2 separate regions of the Homo sapiens genome follow, and region 2 is linked to region 1. Evidence: fine-mapped expression QTL. A gene starts in region 1. The other region holds a variant in brackets. All regions are shown on one strand. Distances are from middle to middle. Region 1 holds the start of TFAP2E (transcription factor AP-2 epsilon). Region 2 overlaps ZMYM4 (zinc finger MYM-type containing 4).

Region 1 (8,327 bases):
GTACTTGTGTTTCCCATGAATGTCTCTGTGCAAGTTGTGTGCCCCATGTTCCCAAGGCTGTCTGCATGTGTACCCCACTGCACCCCAGGCCTCCACATGTGTGCATGTGTCCCAGGGAGCAGACAACCAGAAATCTCCACCTCCATGCCTCAGAGAGTGAGGAGTCCCTTGGCACTGAAAGAAGTAGTCCTGAGTCTGAAATCATGGGACTCTGATGTTTTAGGGAGACTCAAAGCAGCAGCAGACCATGGAGAACATCCCTCTCCCCAGTAGCCATAATCAAAATCACTCACTTATCAGATGATCTCTTCAGATTATACCTGGGTTCTATGTGTAGATACCCAGGATCATGTTCACATAGAGCCTTCCTAAAGGATCCCTTAATAGGCCAGTGGATTCATAACACCATCCATTGATGTGTTTATCATTTACAGTATTTAATAAGCATTCATTGAGTTCCTGCCATGCCCCAAGCACAGCGCTAGATACATTTTCTGTTTCTCCTTTAATCTTGTGAAGCAGTTCCTGAAAGAGGAAAAGTAAGTTAGTCACAACTGCAGAGTCTGGAATGCTCATTAGAATGTTTAAACTTTTTTTCCCCCGAAGATGGGTCATGGGGAGCCCTAGGAAAGTTTTCAGTAGGGAGGTAACATGGTCCAGTCACTCTTGTGGAAGTTGGAAATTGATCAGAAGAGATATGAATAAAGTCAGGAGACCAGTTAGAGAATTGTTGCAATGGCCTAGATAGTGGTTCTTAAACTTTAATGTGCCTCTGAGTCACCTTAAGGACTTATTAATAACACAGGTTGCTGGGCTCCACCCCCAGAGTTATTGACTCAGAAGGTCATGAGTGGGATCCAAGAATTGGGACTTCTAGCAAGCTCCCAGATATTGTTGGTGATGCTGGTCCAGGAACCACTCTTTGGCTGTGTTGCCCAGGCTGGTCTCAAACTCCTGGGCTCAAGGGACCACACTTTGAGAGCCACTGATCTATGAGTAAGAGTAAGGTAGTTTAAGGTGCTGAGACAGGGTGCCATGTGCCCTCTGGGATACCTGCCTCAATTCTCCACCACATACCTTCTGTGGGTGGATGTTTAAGGGTTAGAAATGGCAACACTCCATAAGGATTAGCTTGTGGGGGTTAAGGAAAGGACCTACGCTCTTCTGGGATGACTAGCAAGTTTTGAACTTGAAAAAGGGTGGTGTCATTTATGAAACTACAGAGCAAAGGAGAAGCAGGTTGGGGTTGGTGCTGGGGATAGAGGAGATGTTGAGTTCAGTGTTGGACTTGGAAAATTTCAGACAGCTGCAATGAGATGTCTGGAGAAAATACGCAGCTGGCAGCTGTGTCTATGGGTCTGGATCTCTCACTAGTGATTCAGGCCAGAGATAACACAGTTGGGAGATAACAGTAGACAGGTAGTCATTAAAGACTTGGGCCGGGCGTGGTGACTCATGCCTGTAATCCCAGCACTTTGGGAGGCTGAGGCGAGTGTTCACTTGAAGTCAGGAGTTCGAGATCAGCCTGGCTGACATGATGAAACCCTGTCTCTAGTAAAAATACAAAAGTTAGCCGGGCGTGGTGGTGGGCCCCTGTAATCCCAGTTACTCAGGAAACTGAGACATGAGAATCGCTTGAACCCGGGAGGTGGAGGTTGCAGTGAGCCGAGATTGTGCCACTGCACTCCAGCCCAAGCAACAGAGTGAGACTCTGTTATAAAAAAAAAAAAAAAAAAGACTTGAGAGGGGATGAGCTCACTCATGAAGAGTGCAGGAAGAAAAAGAAGCTTCTCTGCTCTGAGAAAGAATTACCGACATTAAGCATGTAGGTGAAAAGAGAAACAGAAAAGAAGACAGAAATGGTCGGAGTAGGACAATGAGGCAAAAAGGGGCTATCAAAGGTGTAGGAAGTAGATTGAGAAAACCCAAGGAAGCCACAGACAGGCAGCACATCCCGCCACTCTGGCCTTCCCAAGCTGCTGGAGAGAGCAGGGGCATCCCCGCAGCTGGGCACAGGCATCATCTCCTTTGCGGCTCCTAGACTTCTCCCAGAGGAGTTCATCAATTTCTATTCACGCACTGACACCTGTCCTGGAGCTTGACTTCTGATGCCCTGTGGCTGGGGTTGAGGGAGGGAGGAACAGGGCATTGCCACAGACTCCCTCATATATAGATACACACAAACACAATCCTGATCTCTGACCCATCTCGAGCAGGAAAGTTGCAAAGCTTCCCAATTCCGCTTCATCCTCTGGAACCTCGCTGGCGGTTCCAGACTTCAGAAAGTTCTTAATGATGAATCCTTGGCTTCTAGCCTCCTTCTTTCCCCACCACTCCCCAGGCTGAGATCATCCAGCCCTGAGCTCTGCACCTGCCATGTGCCTTCTGGGATACCCACTTGGAACCATATATTCCATGAGTTAATGGTGTCACTATCACCTCCTCTTCTATATCAATAATTTTACCTTAATCTTCTCATTTACTACTTCACTAAAAAGGGACCTAAAAAAACAACTAGTCTTCTCTGCCTTCCCCTACTTTTTTATTGGTGTTGTCGAAGTTGCAGAAACTGAGATCACAGAGGAAACGGGATGTAGCTAGGATCACACAGTTAGGCAGAGTCAGGACTAAATCCAAGCCCCTGAGTCTGAGGCAGTAGAGAATAGTGATTCTGAGCAGAGAGGGGCCAGGGGCAGATCACCCCAGCTCTGCCACTTAGCTGCTTGACCTTGGGCAAGCCATTTAACCTCTCCATGCCTCACCCCTCCCCTGAAAATGGGGATGATATGGGTATCTCTTTCATAGAGCTGCTGTGAGGGTTAAAGAACCCAATATTCGTGAAGCACTTTGCACAGAGGCTGGCACATTCTGTAATAAGTCTGCTGTGATTATTTCTACTTTGCCCTGGTCTGCACATCTTGCTTTTAAAAAACATCTTTCTTCTGCTTTCTTAATTCCTGTTCTCCTTAGCATTCCTCTCATTTGTCCATCTTTAATCCCTGTCTCTGCTTGTCAGGAGGGGAGGGTTGGGTTTGGGGAGAAAGAGAGAGTGACTACAGAGACTGGAACTTGCTTGACAGCCAGGGAGTGCCTGCCATGGTAACACAGGAACATGTAGCCTGCGCATGTTAGTGTAACAATCACACGGCATCCATGCTAGTCAGTTACACACAGTCACTCAACAGTCTCTGGGTATCTCATGCCCACACTCAATCAGCCCAGGACCCTGTGGCTTCAGAAATATCTTGGCCCCTTGTCAGGTGGAGCTCATACCCAAACCCATCCCAGGCAAGTCTCTCTCTCTGTCTGGCCAGCTTCTGTCTCCAACTCCCTCAGAGCCTGGCTTGGCTTGGAAGTTTTCAGCCCAGGAAGCCTGAGAGCGAAGTGGGCACCTTCGAGGGATTTTGATCCAGAACCATTCAGGAAAGACTGTGATGGTAGACCCCCTAAACACACGCACTGACACTGTGTGCGCATGAGCAGATAGGCTGGAGTCTTCAGCTCACAAACTTCTTCCACGTTCCCGATTACCCACCTCATCCAAAGTCTCTTGAGGTGCTTAGAGAAAGGATTGATACCTATTTTACCGAGGAAGCTGAGGCCAGCGAAGAATAGTGCTTTGCTTAAAGGCAAGGATGTGATAGAGCCAGGCAAATGTAGGGCCCTTGCGTCCCAGCCTCGAATATTTCTGTTTCACTGCAGCTGCGAGCTGCGAGCCCAGAAGGCGGCTCTGATCAATGTGGGCTGAATTCACGCCCCCTACCCACCCTACCCGATCCCGCCAAAGCCACTGCCTCCCCTGTGGCAGCCGCTGGGGAAAAGGGAGAGAACTGCCATAGCTTGTCTCTTTAATGCGCGCCCCCGGAGGCCCGGCGCGCCCCCGCCACTATAACTGGAGTGCATGGAGCAGGCTACGCTCAGAGGAGGAAGGGCGGGCGCTGGGCACCCGTTGACCGACTTTTCCAAGTGCGATCAGTGCCCGTCCGTCCTGCCTCCATGGACCCGCCCGGGAACGGCCACCGCTGAGGACCCCACGCCCACTAGGATCCCGGCTGGGTCGCACCCAGCTACCGCACCGTGACCTCCGCGGGCTGTGCCGGCTCCCGGCGCCTCTGCCCGCAGCGCTCGCCGTCGGGCTAGGGCTCCGCCGCCGCCACGCCTCGCGCCCGGCACTCACCGCCCCATGCTGGTGCACACCTACTCCGCCATGGTGAGTAGTCTCGGGCCCGGGACATATTCGGCCGGGGGATCGGGGCGCCTGAGTGCTGGACTTTCCAACCCTCCTGTCCCGCGCTAACGAAATCTCGGAGGGAGGGGGCCGCAGGGACTTCGCCAGCTGAGAACGCGATGCGCAAGTGACCGCTGTCCCCAGCCTGAGGCTCCTGCGCCCGCGGGTGGCTCGGAAATAAACCTCGGGCCCCAAGAAACGGGAGGGACTGCAGCTGAACCCTCCCGAGCTGAGGAGGATCCTTTCAGGCTGGGGTCCTTTCAGCTGCCAGTGGGTCACCTAAGGCACCCCTCTCCTTCCCCAGGAGCGCCCCGACGGGCTGGGAGCAGCTGCCGGCGGGGCCCGCCTGTCGTCTCTGCCCCAGGCGGCCTACGGGCCGGCGCCCCCGCTCTGCCACACGCCGGCCGCCACAGCTGCCGCCGAATTCCAGCCGCCCTACTTCCCGCCGCCCTACCCGCAGCCACCGCTGCCCTACGGTCAGGCGCCCGACGCCGCCGCAGCCTTTCCCCACCTGGCAGGGGACCCATATGGCGGCCTGGCGCCCCTGGCGCAGCCGCAGCCTCCTCAGGCCGCCTGGGCCGCGCCCCGCGCAGCCGCCCGCGCCCACGAGGAGCCTCCCGGCCTGCTGGCACCGCCCGCCCGCGCCCTGGGCCTTGACCCGCGCCGTGACTATGCCACTGCCGTGCCCCGGCTCCTGCACGGCCTGGCCGACGGCGCGCACGGCCTGGCAGACGCACCTCTCGGCCTTCCGGGGCTGGCGGCGGCCCCCGGTCTGGAGGACCTGCAGGTGAGACCCGAGGGATCCGGGATGGGTCGGGACTGGCCGCGGTGGTTTACTACCATGGCTGGAGGCAGAAGGTGACAAATGCAGGAAGCCGACTTTTCTCCCAGCTCGCCACATCTCACTGGTGACTCCGAGGATGTGTCCCACCTCCTGGGTTAGACGTTGCCTGGCCATCAAGGCTGCCTGGCACTGAGTCCGCCAGCAGTGCGTGGGTGGCAGCAACCCTCGGCAGGGACCGAATCACTTCTTTTCTCCCCGCTGCCACGTGTGGCATCCATGGGGCAGCCTGCACCTGGGGCGAAGAGAAGCATAATAGTTACCAGTGTAAGATTCAAAATTCCCTTTTTGCACTGCACAGTGAGATGCCCAGGGCTCCAGCTCAGTGCCTGGACATAGCGATTCCTGGGCCTGCCCGTCGCCGCCCCAAGCGAAGCTGGTGCGCCTTGGGCGGAGCAGACAGAGACCCTGGGTGGCAGGGGCTTGGGAAGACATGGGCGGCTAGGGCTTTATGCGCCCTCACCGCTGCCCTCTGCTATTTGCAGGCAATGGACGAGCCGGGAATGAGCCTCCTAGACCAGTCCGTGATCAAGAAAGGTAAGGAATGGTCTGTCAGGGCAGAGCCCGGCGAGATGGTGCAGGCCCTTGGTGCACAGATCCATTTTCTTCACCGGCCGTGCCTCCTGTGTGTCGCCAGGCTGGGTGTCCACCAGGCACTCTTCCTGGCCCAGCCAGATGTTAGGCAGACGTGCGGGCTTGGTGAGTTTGCCCAGCACCCTGTGGCCTGGGGTGGGCCTCAGCGGATCAGCATTCACTGGGCTGCAGCACTGGGAGCCTGGCCTCTCCCCGCCGAGGGGGAGGGCACTCTTGTGGATCTGGAGTTGATTTGCAGAACGAGTTAAACCACTTCCCTGTTTCCCTAAGAGATGGGAATGGAAGTGCTGTTCCCACGGAGTTGGGGAAATGATTTTCACTTTACAGTGCCTTAGCATTTCGGTGCCTGGCGGGCACTTTCTTCCTCTTCCTTCCAGGCAGGGCCTTGGAGGCCTCTGGGGGAATTTTCTTTCTGTGGGAGTCTCTTGCGGCATTTAGACTTAGGGGAGCTTGTGTGTGAGTACTGTGTGTTAGGCTGTGTGCACCTGAGTCAGGGCCCACCTGCTCCTGGGTGTCTGTGTCCATGTGAGTTCAGGGTCCTGTGCATGTCTGAAATGTTCCCTTCATGGGTGTCTTAGTATTTCTTGGAGTGTGAGTGTGTCTGTTTCTGTGAATGTGTTTGTGAGGTGTGTCTCTGTATGTTGGTGTGCATTTCTCTGCATTTGGGGGATGTACACATTTCTCAATATGTACAGTATCTCTGTTGTGTCCTGCACTTTGTTCTTTGGTATCTGAGGATTTCCAAGCATGCGCGGGCCCTCTCTGTGTATATATAGGAGTATTTATGTGACTCCTGGCATTAGTAAAATCCAGGGACACGGGATCCACCTTTTCTGGCCTGAGGACCAAGTACTGGCCATGACAGGGGAAGGTGAGAGACGACAAAAACAGAGAGACAGCCAGAGAGGAGCAGAGAGTCAGAGGGGCCCAGGCATTGGGTAGCAGCCTCTTTACATTTGGGGCAGGTGCCCGAAAGAATTCAGAGGTGCACATGAGCCTGAGGTGCCCCAGGCAGGCACTGCTCCCACAGGGTTTGGCTTGAGTTGTTTTTCAAACGAGTGAATTCAAGCCTGGGCTCTATTTGCCCTCCACTTGTTCTCAGGGGAGGCCAAGGTGGAAGTGGTGGTAGCAGGGCTGGGGCTGGACTTCCAGGAGCTGGGGCTGAGTTACCAGGAGCTGGGGGTTGGGTGGATGACTTGGAGTGTGTAGCAGGGAAGATGAGGCAACAGGGCAGGAAGTGGGTGGGGGGAGGTGGAATTGGGGCTGTGTCCTGTGTCGCTTGGAACTGGGAGTGTGGGAAAGACACTAGGAACCTGGTTGCAGCGCAGCTCTGCTGGTGGGGCTTGGTTGGCTTACTGTACAGAGCCTTTCTTGACCCCTGAAGAAAGAGATCCGTCTGCAGTGGGCAAAAGCCTGCCTGGACTTCCTGGCCACCAGAAATATGAGCATGGTGGTGGTCCCCAGTTCCCTATTCATGCTTGGGCTCAAGAGACTGGGAGTCTAGGTTCACTGACTCCCTGAGAAAGACTAAGACCCTGCATTTTAGAAAGAGGTTTGGGGATCTCTGCCCTGCGCAAGGGTAGAAGGATCAGCTGTTCCTCTGAGCACCTTAACCCGGAACCCCGGTCCGAAGCCGAGACAGGAGACTGGATGCGAGGCCCTCCCAGAGCTGGTTTCTCTCAAACAACTTCCAAAACTCCTAGATCCTAGGGGTACGCCGAAATCCCCCAAAGCAGTCCAAAGAACACAACGAGAGTCCTAACATCCCAGGTGGCGGCGCGCTGGCTCCCTGGAGCGGGGCGGGACGCGGCCGCGCGGACTCACGTGCACAACCGCGCGGGACGGGGCCACGCGGACTCACGTGCACAACCGCGGGACCCCAGCGCCAGCGGGACCCCAGCGCCAGCGGGACCCCAGCGCCAGCGGGACCCCAGCGCCAGCGGGACCCCAGCGCCAGCGGGACCCCAGCGCCAGCGGGACCCCAGCGCCAGCGGGTCTGTGGCCCAGTGGAGCGAGTGGAGCGCTGGCGACCTGAGCGGAGACTGCGCCCTGGACGCCCCAGCCTAGACGTCAAGTTACAGCCCGCGCAGCAGCAGCAAAGGGGAAGGGGCAGGAGCCGGGCACAGTTGGATCCGGAGGTCGTGACCCAGGGGAAAGCGTGGGCGGTCGACCCAGGGCAGCTGCGGCGGCGAGGCAGGTGGGCTCCTTGCTCCCTGGAGCCGCCCCTCCCCACACCTGCCCTCGGCGCCCCCAGCAGTTTTCACCTTGGCCCTCCGCGGTCACTGCGGGATTCGGCGTTGCCGCCAGCCCAGTGGGGAGTGAATTAGCGCCCTCCTTCGTCCTCGGCCCTTCCGACGGCACGAGGAACTCCTGTCCTGCCCCACAGACCTTCGGCCTCCGCCGAGTGCGGTACTGGAGCCTGCCCCGCCAGGGCCCTGGAATCAGAGAAAGTCGCTCTTTGGCCACCTGAAGCGTCGGATCCCTACAGTGCCTCCCAGCCTGGGCGGGAGCGGCGGCTGCGTCGCTGAAGGTTGGGGTCCTTGGTGCGAAAGGGAGGCAGCTGCAGCCTCAGCCCCACCCCAGAAGCGGCCTTCGCATCGCTGCGGTGGGCGTTCTCGGGCTTCGACTTCGCCAGCGCCGCGGGGCAGAGGCACCTGGAGCTCG
Region 2 (8,327 bases), 160 kb before region 1:
GTTATCTTTAAAAAAATTGTTCATTTTTATTTCTGTCCAGATTTATACCATATTTGGACTTCTGAGGAGACGGTCTTTGGTTTATTGTTGATTGTTTTAGGAAAACTGTACAAGTCATATAGCACATGTATAGATACTGATTGCAGAAAATATAAACTAATTTGAAGTTACATTTACCTTTTTAGAAACCATTTTTGATCTGGTAGCATTGGTGTAGCTTTCACATATCATATCTGCTAACAGTGGACCTTTTTTGGTAGTTTGTATGTATACTGAACTGTTGTTAAGAGAGTTAAGTCCTCGTCCTTGAATTATCTTTGACCAGATGTCATCAGACAAGTCCATAATTCACTCCAGGTCTCAGGCTGAGGTGAATGAAGAGGTTCAATGTTATGCTTAGTAATATATGCACCTTTCTGTTGGGCTGCAGAGCACCTTTAACAGTAAGCTTAATGATCTCCAACAGGAGTTTGCAAACTATGGTCCATGGGCCAAATCTGGCCTGCTCCCTGTTTTGCAATCTATGAGCTAAAAATTGTTTTTACATTTTTAAATAGTTGGGGAAATTTTTTTAAGAATTCCTATTTCATCATGTGAAAATTATATTAAATTCATGGCTGGGTGTGGTGGCTCACACCTGTGGTCCCAGGTGTGACTTTGGAAGGCTGAGGCAGGAGGATCACTTGAGCCCAGGAGTTCAAGATCAGCCTGGGCAACAAGGTGAAACTCTGTCTCTACAAAAAATAAAAAAAATTAGCTGGGCATGGTGGTGGTGCCTTGTAGTCCCAGCTACTCAGGAGGATGAGGTGGGAGAAGCACCTGAGCCCAGGAGTTTGAGGCTGCAGTGAGCCCTGATCGTGCCACTGCACTCCAGCCTGGGTGACAGAGTAAGACCCTGTCTCAAAAAAAAGAAAAGAAAATTATATGACTATAAATAAATTTTACTGGCATATAGCTCTGCCTGTTTATGTGTTCTCTACAGCTCCTTAGTTTCTACAGCAACAGCGTTGTTCAGAGCCTATATGGCCTACACATCCCAAAATATTTACTTTCTGGCCCTTTATAAAGACAGCTTAACCCCTAATCTAAAATATCAATAGATTAAAACGGTTTCAGGAGACTCCACGAACGGTGTCTACTTGAGTGGAATCATCTGCCTTTTTCTTTGTGGTGCGTTTTCTGGTTTTCTGCATAAGGAAGAGGGGAAAGAGGAATAGTCAGTTTTTCTCTTTATATCTCCCTGTCTTAGAATTTGAGAGATTACTTAGTCTACTTTAGCAGGAGCTCAGTACTGTTTCTTGTACCCCTTCTTCTGTCTAGGTTACATGTTCTCTCGCATTGAGGAAGAGCATTTGTGGGAGTGCAAACAGCTGGGCGCTTACTCACCAATCGTCCTTTTAAACACCCTCCTTTTCTTCAATACCAAATACTTCCAACTAAAGAATGTTACTGAGCACTTGAAGCTTTCCTTTGCCCATGTGATGAGACGGACCAGGACTCTGAAGTACAGTACCAAGATGACATATCTGAGGTTCTTCCCACCTTTACAGAAGCAGGAGTCAGAACCAGGTACGGGATACTGTTTGTCAGATTTCTCTTTGAAGTCTTAGTAGTAGTACTAAAATAGAGAGTTACTGCAGAAAGGTAATTATAAATGCTAGACGTGAAAGAGTGTACCTTTAACATTTGAATATTTTTCTCTATTGTCAGAGAGTGGTCAAAGGCTGGCCTCAAAGTGAGAGGAATCACGTGCTTCAATATACTTTCATTGGCTTTTAAATTAGAAATTTTGATTTAATTGGGCAGAGCTCAAATAGCCTGCATTTTAAAACTTCTCAGGAAATTAAAAAATACAAACAGGGTTGAGAATCACTAATTTACTAGCCCCAGATGAGTCAATCACTAGTTAAACGAAACCTGCAGAACTTTTAGTCCATTGTTTCTAAATCTTTTTTTGACCAGAGCCCCTCTTTTTAGTTAACATTGTGAAATTCTGAAGGAACTTAAAAGCTGACCTACAATATACTGCTTTTGTACACAATAGAATAATAGCAGTGACAATTTTATTAGAAGGTTTATTGTCTTGCATTTCAAAAACAGCCTATTAAATAAGTTTGTTTTTAATGTTCAGAAACTTAATCTTGGTATTATAGGATTAGAAATTAAATTTATTATTTTTTGAATAGAATCATAAGTCCTGAACTTCCCAAAATCAGTTTCTGAGAGTGAAATACATTTTTTGAATGTGAGAATTTAAATCACTGAAACTAAAATCTGTATTTGTGATGTTCAACTTTGTATAAACTTTTTTCTGAATTGTTCATTTACTAAGATTATCTTTTTCACCTAATGTCTGTGTCCTGTTTGCTTAGTTTTATATATATGTAACCCACTTTGTGCTCTCAATTGATTTTTATTTATTTATTTATTTATTTTGAGATGAAGTCTCACTCTGTCACCCAGGTTGGAGTGCAGTGGTGTGATCTCAGCTCACTGCAGACTTCGCCTCCCAGGTTCAAGCAATTCTCCTGCCTCAGCCTCCCAAGTAGCTGGGACTACAGGCATGTGCTACCACGCCTGGCTAATTTTTGTATTTTTAATAGAGACGGGGTTTCACCATATTGGGCAAGCTGGTCTCGAACTCCTGACCTCAGGTGATCCACCCGCCTCGGCCTCTCAAAGTGCTGGGATTACAGGCGTGAGCCACCATGCCTGGCCTCAGTTGGTATTAACTGGGGGAGGGAAAGGCAGGTGGATAATGTTTCCCTGTTTGCTGATTGGGTGCTTGACATGATTAGTAGTGAATTCAGCTTGCTTTCTAAGTGAGTAACTAGCAAAGTCTTTCTATTTAGCTAGCTGCTAAATGGAAAATGGGTGAGTTTTGTTAAAGTAATAATGCAGGAAGCTGGGGAAAGTCCTATACCGGTTGTTAAGAGCAGATATAGGCTGAGTGCAATGGCTCATGCTTGTAATCCCAATATTTTGGGAGGCTCATGCGGGAGGATTGCTTGACCCCAGGAGTTTGAGGCTGTAGTGAGCTGTGATGGAGTCACTGCACTCTAGCCTGGGCAACAGAGTGAGACCCTGTCTCCCAAAAAAAAAAAAAAAAGAAAGAAAACCTTTTTTCCTTAGGTCCATCTAGTGTTCTCTTGAGGAGTGAATGGAAAAAGTGGGAAAGAAATAGCCCACTTTCCGTATCTTCACCCTGACTTCCTTATATAATGCTTGGCCTCTGCAAAATACTGTTGGGGAAAAATGGTTTGTTCTTTTCTTACCAAATAGTAACTCTGCTGATAATTTCTCTTCCCAACAAAGATGCCATTTCTCACAATATTCGAACAAATAAACTTGAGCAGATGCCCAGTACTAGTGCCCCACAGTAGAAATATTCTCATAGAGATGACAGCTTCTGCTGAGTTCAGTGGCTTGTACCTGTAGTCCCAGCTACTCCAAAGGCTGTGGCAAGAGGATCACTTGAACCCAGGAGTTCAAGGCTGCGGAGATTCAAGGCTGCTGTGATCACACCATCATGCTCCAGGCTGGGCAACAGAGTGAGACCCTGTCTCTTAAAAGAGAGATGGCGACCGGGCACGGTGGTTCATGCCTGTAATCCCAGCACTTTGGGAGGCCGAGGTGGGCTGATCACCTGAGGTCAGGAGTTCGAGACCAGACTGGCCAACATGGTGAAAACCTGTCTCTACTAAAAATACAAAAAAATTAGCTGGGCATGGTGGCAGGCGCCTGTAATCCCAGCTACTTGGGAGGCTGAGGCAGGAGAATCCTTGAACCTGGGTGGAGGCTGCAGTGAGCGGAGATTTCGCCGTTGCACTCCGTCCTGGGCAAGAAGAGCAAAGTTCCGTCTCAAAAAAAAAAAAAGAGATGGCAACTTCTGTCTTGATCTCTACTGTAGGAGAAAAACATGTGGAACCCTTCTTTCTGCTTTATCTTGATATGTCTCAGGAACCCTGTGCCTAATGAAGTTTATTAATAAAGTCAGGCTCAGAATAGAGACGTTTTCCAGTGCCAGTGCCATACTTTTTGTCATGGTGCCCCCACTTTGGTGAGCAGGGGAGCATAAAATTCATGGGATAGGGACTTTGTTTAATGCCATAGAATCCAGCACTTAAAATAATGTCTGGCACCTTCATAGGCACTCAGTATTTGTTGAATGAGTGTGAGTGAGTGAAAGGGAGGAAATGACAAAGTTCTGGCTGC[G/A]AAGCAAAGCTCATTGGTGTCTTGAGACTCAAAGAATAGACTTTTCTAATATAATCCTTTGATTATTATTTCCTGTCTCAAGATAAACTGACTGTTGGCAAGAGGAAACGAAATGAAGATGATGAGGTTCCAGTGGGGGTGGAGATGGCAGAGAATACTGACAATCCACTAAGATGCCCAGTCCGACTTTATGAGTTTTACCTGTCAAAATGGTAATCTTTCTCTGAACTGAATGTAGTGCACTCAGAAGGCAGTTAACATATTTTGGATTTCAGATGCTTGAACATCAGAAAAGTAGCTTGCCCGTGGCTTTAGACAAGGATTTACCATGAATTTTTTCCCCATTGTCATATCTATGTGGATTTTGAACCACAAAACAAATTACCTTGTCTTCATAATTATTTTATGAAAATGTCTTCAAAAGCAAGAATCACTGCTATTGTTTGATCTTTACAACTGTTGTACAACCTTTATGTGATACCTAATCTGTAGTTATTTTGTTATTTGTATAGAAAAGAAATTTTGTTTTGCTAAAGCTATAATAGAAAAACAATTTTTAAGGAATTGAAATTTTCTAAGTAGTCCTTTTCTTAGAGGAACTTTATGATTTTAGAGTTGTAACACTTTTTTTTCTGAAAGAAATGTAATAGCTTCATTTGCCCTTTGATAATGTGTATTGAGTGCCCTTGGAGTTCATTCCAGGATATTGGGCACTTCCAATATGTGGTGCTTGGCCATAGTGTCACATGTGAGTTGACTTTTTTGTTGCTCTTAATAATGTTTGAAGTACTAAAGTTTATGATTTACACTTTGTCTTATATTAACTTTATACTCACTTCCAATCCATTGTGATTTCAGTTGATTCCTGGGAGGAAATATTCCTGTAAACTATTTATCTCTGTGGGTACCTTGCTTTCCCCATTGTGAGTCACAGTGGAGAAAGGTTGAGAGCCATATTAGGTTGGTGCAAAAATAATTGCAGTTTTTGCCCTTACTTTTAATTACTTTTAATGGCAAAAACCTCAGTTTACTTAAGAATAGTACATATTTCCTATACTCTCTGATTTCTAATTTTCTTTTTTCTCTTTTTTTTTTTCCCCTGTGGATAGTTCTGAAAGTGTGAAGCAAAGGAATGATGTGTTTTACCTTCAACCTGAGCGCTCCTGTGTCCCGAATAGCCCCATGTGGTACTCCACATTCCCGATAGACCCTGGAACCCTGGACACCATGTTAACACGTATTCTCATGGTGAGGGAGGTACATGAAGAACTTGCCAAAGCCAAATCTGAAGACTCTGATGTTGAATTATCAGATTAAAACGGAAGTGAGGTTCTTATTTTCATACATATTGGTATGCACCAAACTGTGAATGCATCCAGCTGTTGGAAAATGATGTATAAGTCTAAGTCCTCTTGACTTGACCATAAGATCATGGAAAACAGATGACTTGTGAACCCCACAGTGTGGATGTGCAAATGAAAATTGAAGGAAAGAATATGAACTGAGAAATGTTCTTTGGCAGTGATATAGTTCTTAGACATCTTCAGAATGACTAATTTCTCCGAGTGGTGCATAATCTTATTTTGTTTGGGAGTAACAAATCGTGGAATATTTTTAAGGAAAACTGTTGTATAAAACTTTACCATAGTAACCTTAGACCTTAGAGAGGTAGCTTTGGAGTGAAACTTTGGCTGCAATAGGCTACTTTGGCAAGCCCTCCGTAAAAGTCAGAGGAGAGATCAGTACAGAGCTAAGAGTGACATCAAATGAGGACTGTGGGACCCAGATTTGAAGACCCAATAAAAATACTCAACTTTTTAAAAAAGATAGTGAAGTGGTCTTGATTGATTTTGATTTTCACTGCCAAGCCAATCATGTGAAGGACAGAAGCTTTTGCCATGGGCCCCTCACATCAGGGAAAATGACCTTCACTGCTGTTAACAGTAATGTGTCCCTTTCATTTTCTGGATCAAGCCTTCTCAGCGGTGGGTCTGGATGTGGGTAAACTAAGGTAAAGGGGATGATATTCCACAAACTAATTATGCACACAGAAAATCTGTGGAGCCTATCAGACCCCAAGTGTCTTGAAATGTTTGTAGAAACCCACTAAAATGCCCCTTCTCTGGGTGTGGGCCCTTATTGCAGCTGTCTCACAGCCTGAGCTGTGGTACAGAGAAATGGGGGTTCTCCTTTTATTTTCATTTTTTTTCCCCAATGGCAGCTTTTCTCCCGTTGTTTTACCTTCCTATTTCCCAAACAGTTCCTCTTATTTTGTCTTTTGCACCAGTTTCTGGAGGCCCTTGTCATTTCAAAAAGGATAGTCTCTTTTCTTACTCTGGCAAACCTGTGAGTGATTCCACAAAGATACAGTATTACTTAGCTATCTGAATTATGATAGAAAAGGTCCTAGTTAGGTTCCTATATAAAGCATTTGGAAGATGACCTTGTTGCCCTTGAAACTTGAAAATAGGGATTCTGGGGTGAGGATACAAAGACATTGTCTTGCATATCCATAAGCAGGTCTTAGAGCATTATTCCAAACTCTAGCTGTTTCAGTAGTTCTATGAGGATTGCAAGTCATAGGTGTGTGTGGCATATCAGTCCATCTCCCTCATCTCCATTCTCAGTTTCTTCCCCACAAAATTTGGAATCAAAGCTTTTATGACGTTTGCCAATTGCAGAACTTCTTCAGCTAAGGTTAATTTGACGCTATGATAAAACTGAGAGATGTCAAAAAGCCTCTTAGAAATTTTAATCTTGAAAGACTTTTCAGGGTATCTCATTTTTTAGGTGGGGGTGGCAGGTGTATTTCTTTTTTAACAAATAAAAGGCATTTAAGTAAAACTAAAATGAAAAAAGTAGGCCTTCTGACATTGTGTACTTGGTGGTTCTGTCCCTCTGCCTGTAACAAATCTCATTTTTGTTACCAAGAACTGTATGAAAGAAGTAAATCCACCCCGATTCTGTATGATTAATTCCATCTGTGTTTGTCATTTCTGACTGGAAAACTTCTTACTCCATACCTTGTTCGATATGGAGGACAAATAATTGGATTGTCTGATAAGTCTGCCAATAAACTATCCAGAAATAGCAAGTGTAATAGTCCCCACTATACGAATTTTATGGTTTGTATAAACACTAACATTTTCCCCTTCTGTAGTTGTATGAAAAAACAAATATTGTTAGCATAGTAGATAAATTGTTATGAAATACCAGAAAAAAAAATCTGTATCTTTTACTGAGAACACCCAATACCCAGATAAATGACTGTATCAGGATTTCATTTGCATGTTAGTCCACAGAGTTGCCCAGAACCCTAAATTTATTCATAAGAGAAAATATTGATTAATTATTGGTCATTCCTCATAAGTGTAGCTGTTGATGTGTGCGTCTGATTATTGCTTTTTTAATTTTATGAAAATTGTGTAAAATTACATTTTTTTTCCAGGGGAGAAAAAAACATCAAACAAAAACATCTAAATCATCCTTTTTGTTCTTTTTCAGTTTTTAACCACTTTTAGGTTTTCCCCTTACAGAAACCACAGAAATATTCCCTTAGAATAAAATAGTATATTTGTATTTGATGGGTGAGTTCTTCTTCTTTACGTCTTAAAAGAATTTGAAATCTCTTTTTCTGATTGACCTTATTGGTATGACCCAGCAATTAGTAAAATTACAAAGAAAGAGAGCAGTTTCCGAGAAAGAAATTTTTTTTATGTAGTCCAGTCAACATATTTTTTCATTGCAAGTTCTTTTATTTCCTTTTTTCCATCAAAAGACTTGTTCCCATTTTTAGCTAATTTACTGACTATATTCAAAGTCCCAACAGGTAGAAATATCAGAGATCATTTATACATATCATTTCAGGCAAACTTTTTTGAGATTTACAAAGCCTACATCAGTTCAACTTTAATGAAATTGTAAGACTAGAATAAAGGATATGTTCATTCTTAAGTATAAATACATGTTTAAAACAGGAATGTAAGACTAAATAGCATTTTCCTTCGACTTCAGAGTTGTCTTGGTATTATGCAGCTGTACTTTCAAATTCCGTATCGACTTTCTACCTACCTGCCTTGTGGCAATCCTAAATTTATAAAACAGGTTTTCCC

Evidence for each region.
Region 2: its variant is fine-mapped to the expression of TFAP2E in stomach (GTEx, PIP 0.99).

Annotation. Positions count from the first base shown.
Region 1 is chr1:35,569,395-35,577,721 of GRCh38, forward strand. It overlaps TFAP2E (transcription factor AP-2 epsilon), which reads left to right and starts at 3,920. Exons shown (of 7, transcript NM_178548.4): 1 at 3,920-4,210; 2 at 4,533-5,015; 3 at 5,555-5,606. The coding sequence starts at 4,184. TFAP2E-AS1 (TFAP2E antisense RNA 1) reads right to left here. Exons shown (of 3, transcript NR_183387.1): 1 at 7,272-8,327; 2 at 4,966-5,304; 3 at 417-525. RefSeq lists a silencer at 823-924 and enhancers at 3,884-4,383, 4,625-5,371, 7,069-7,921, 7,922-8,327, 8,027-8,116 and 1 more.
Region 2 is chr1:35,414,146-35,422,472 of GRCh38, forward strand. ZMYM4 (zinc finger MYM-type containing 4) reads left to right here. Exons shown (of 30, transcript NM_005095.3): 28 at 1,321-1,569; 29 at 4,298-4,427; 30 at 5,325-7,913. The coding sequence ends at 5,532. Among named protein-coding and RNA genes, the nearest start is that of ZMYM4-AS1, 52 kb to the left of the region's middle. The variant G/A (reference allele first, on the strand shown) is at 4,216.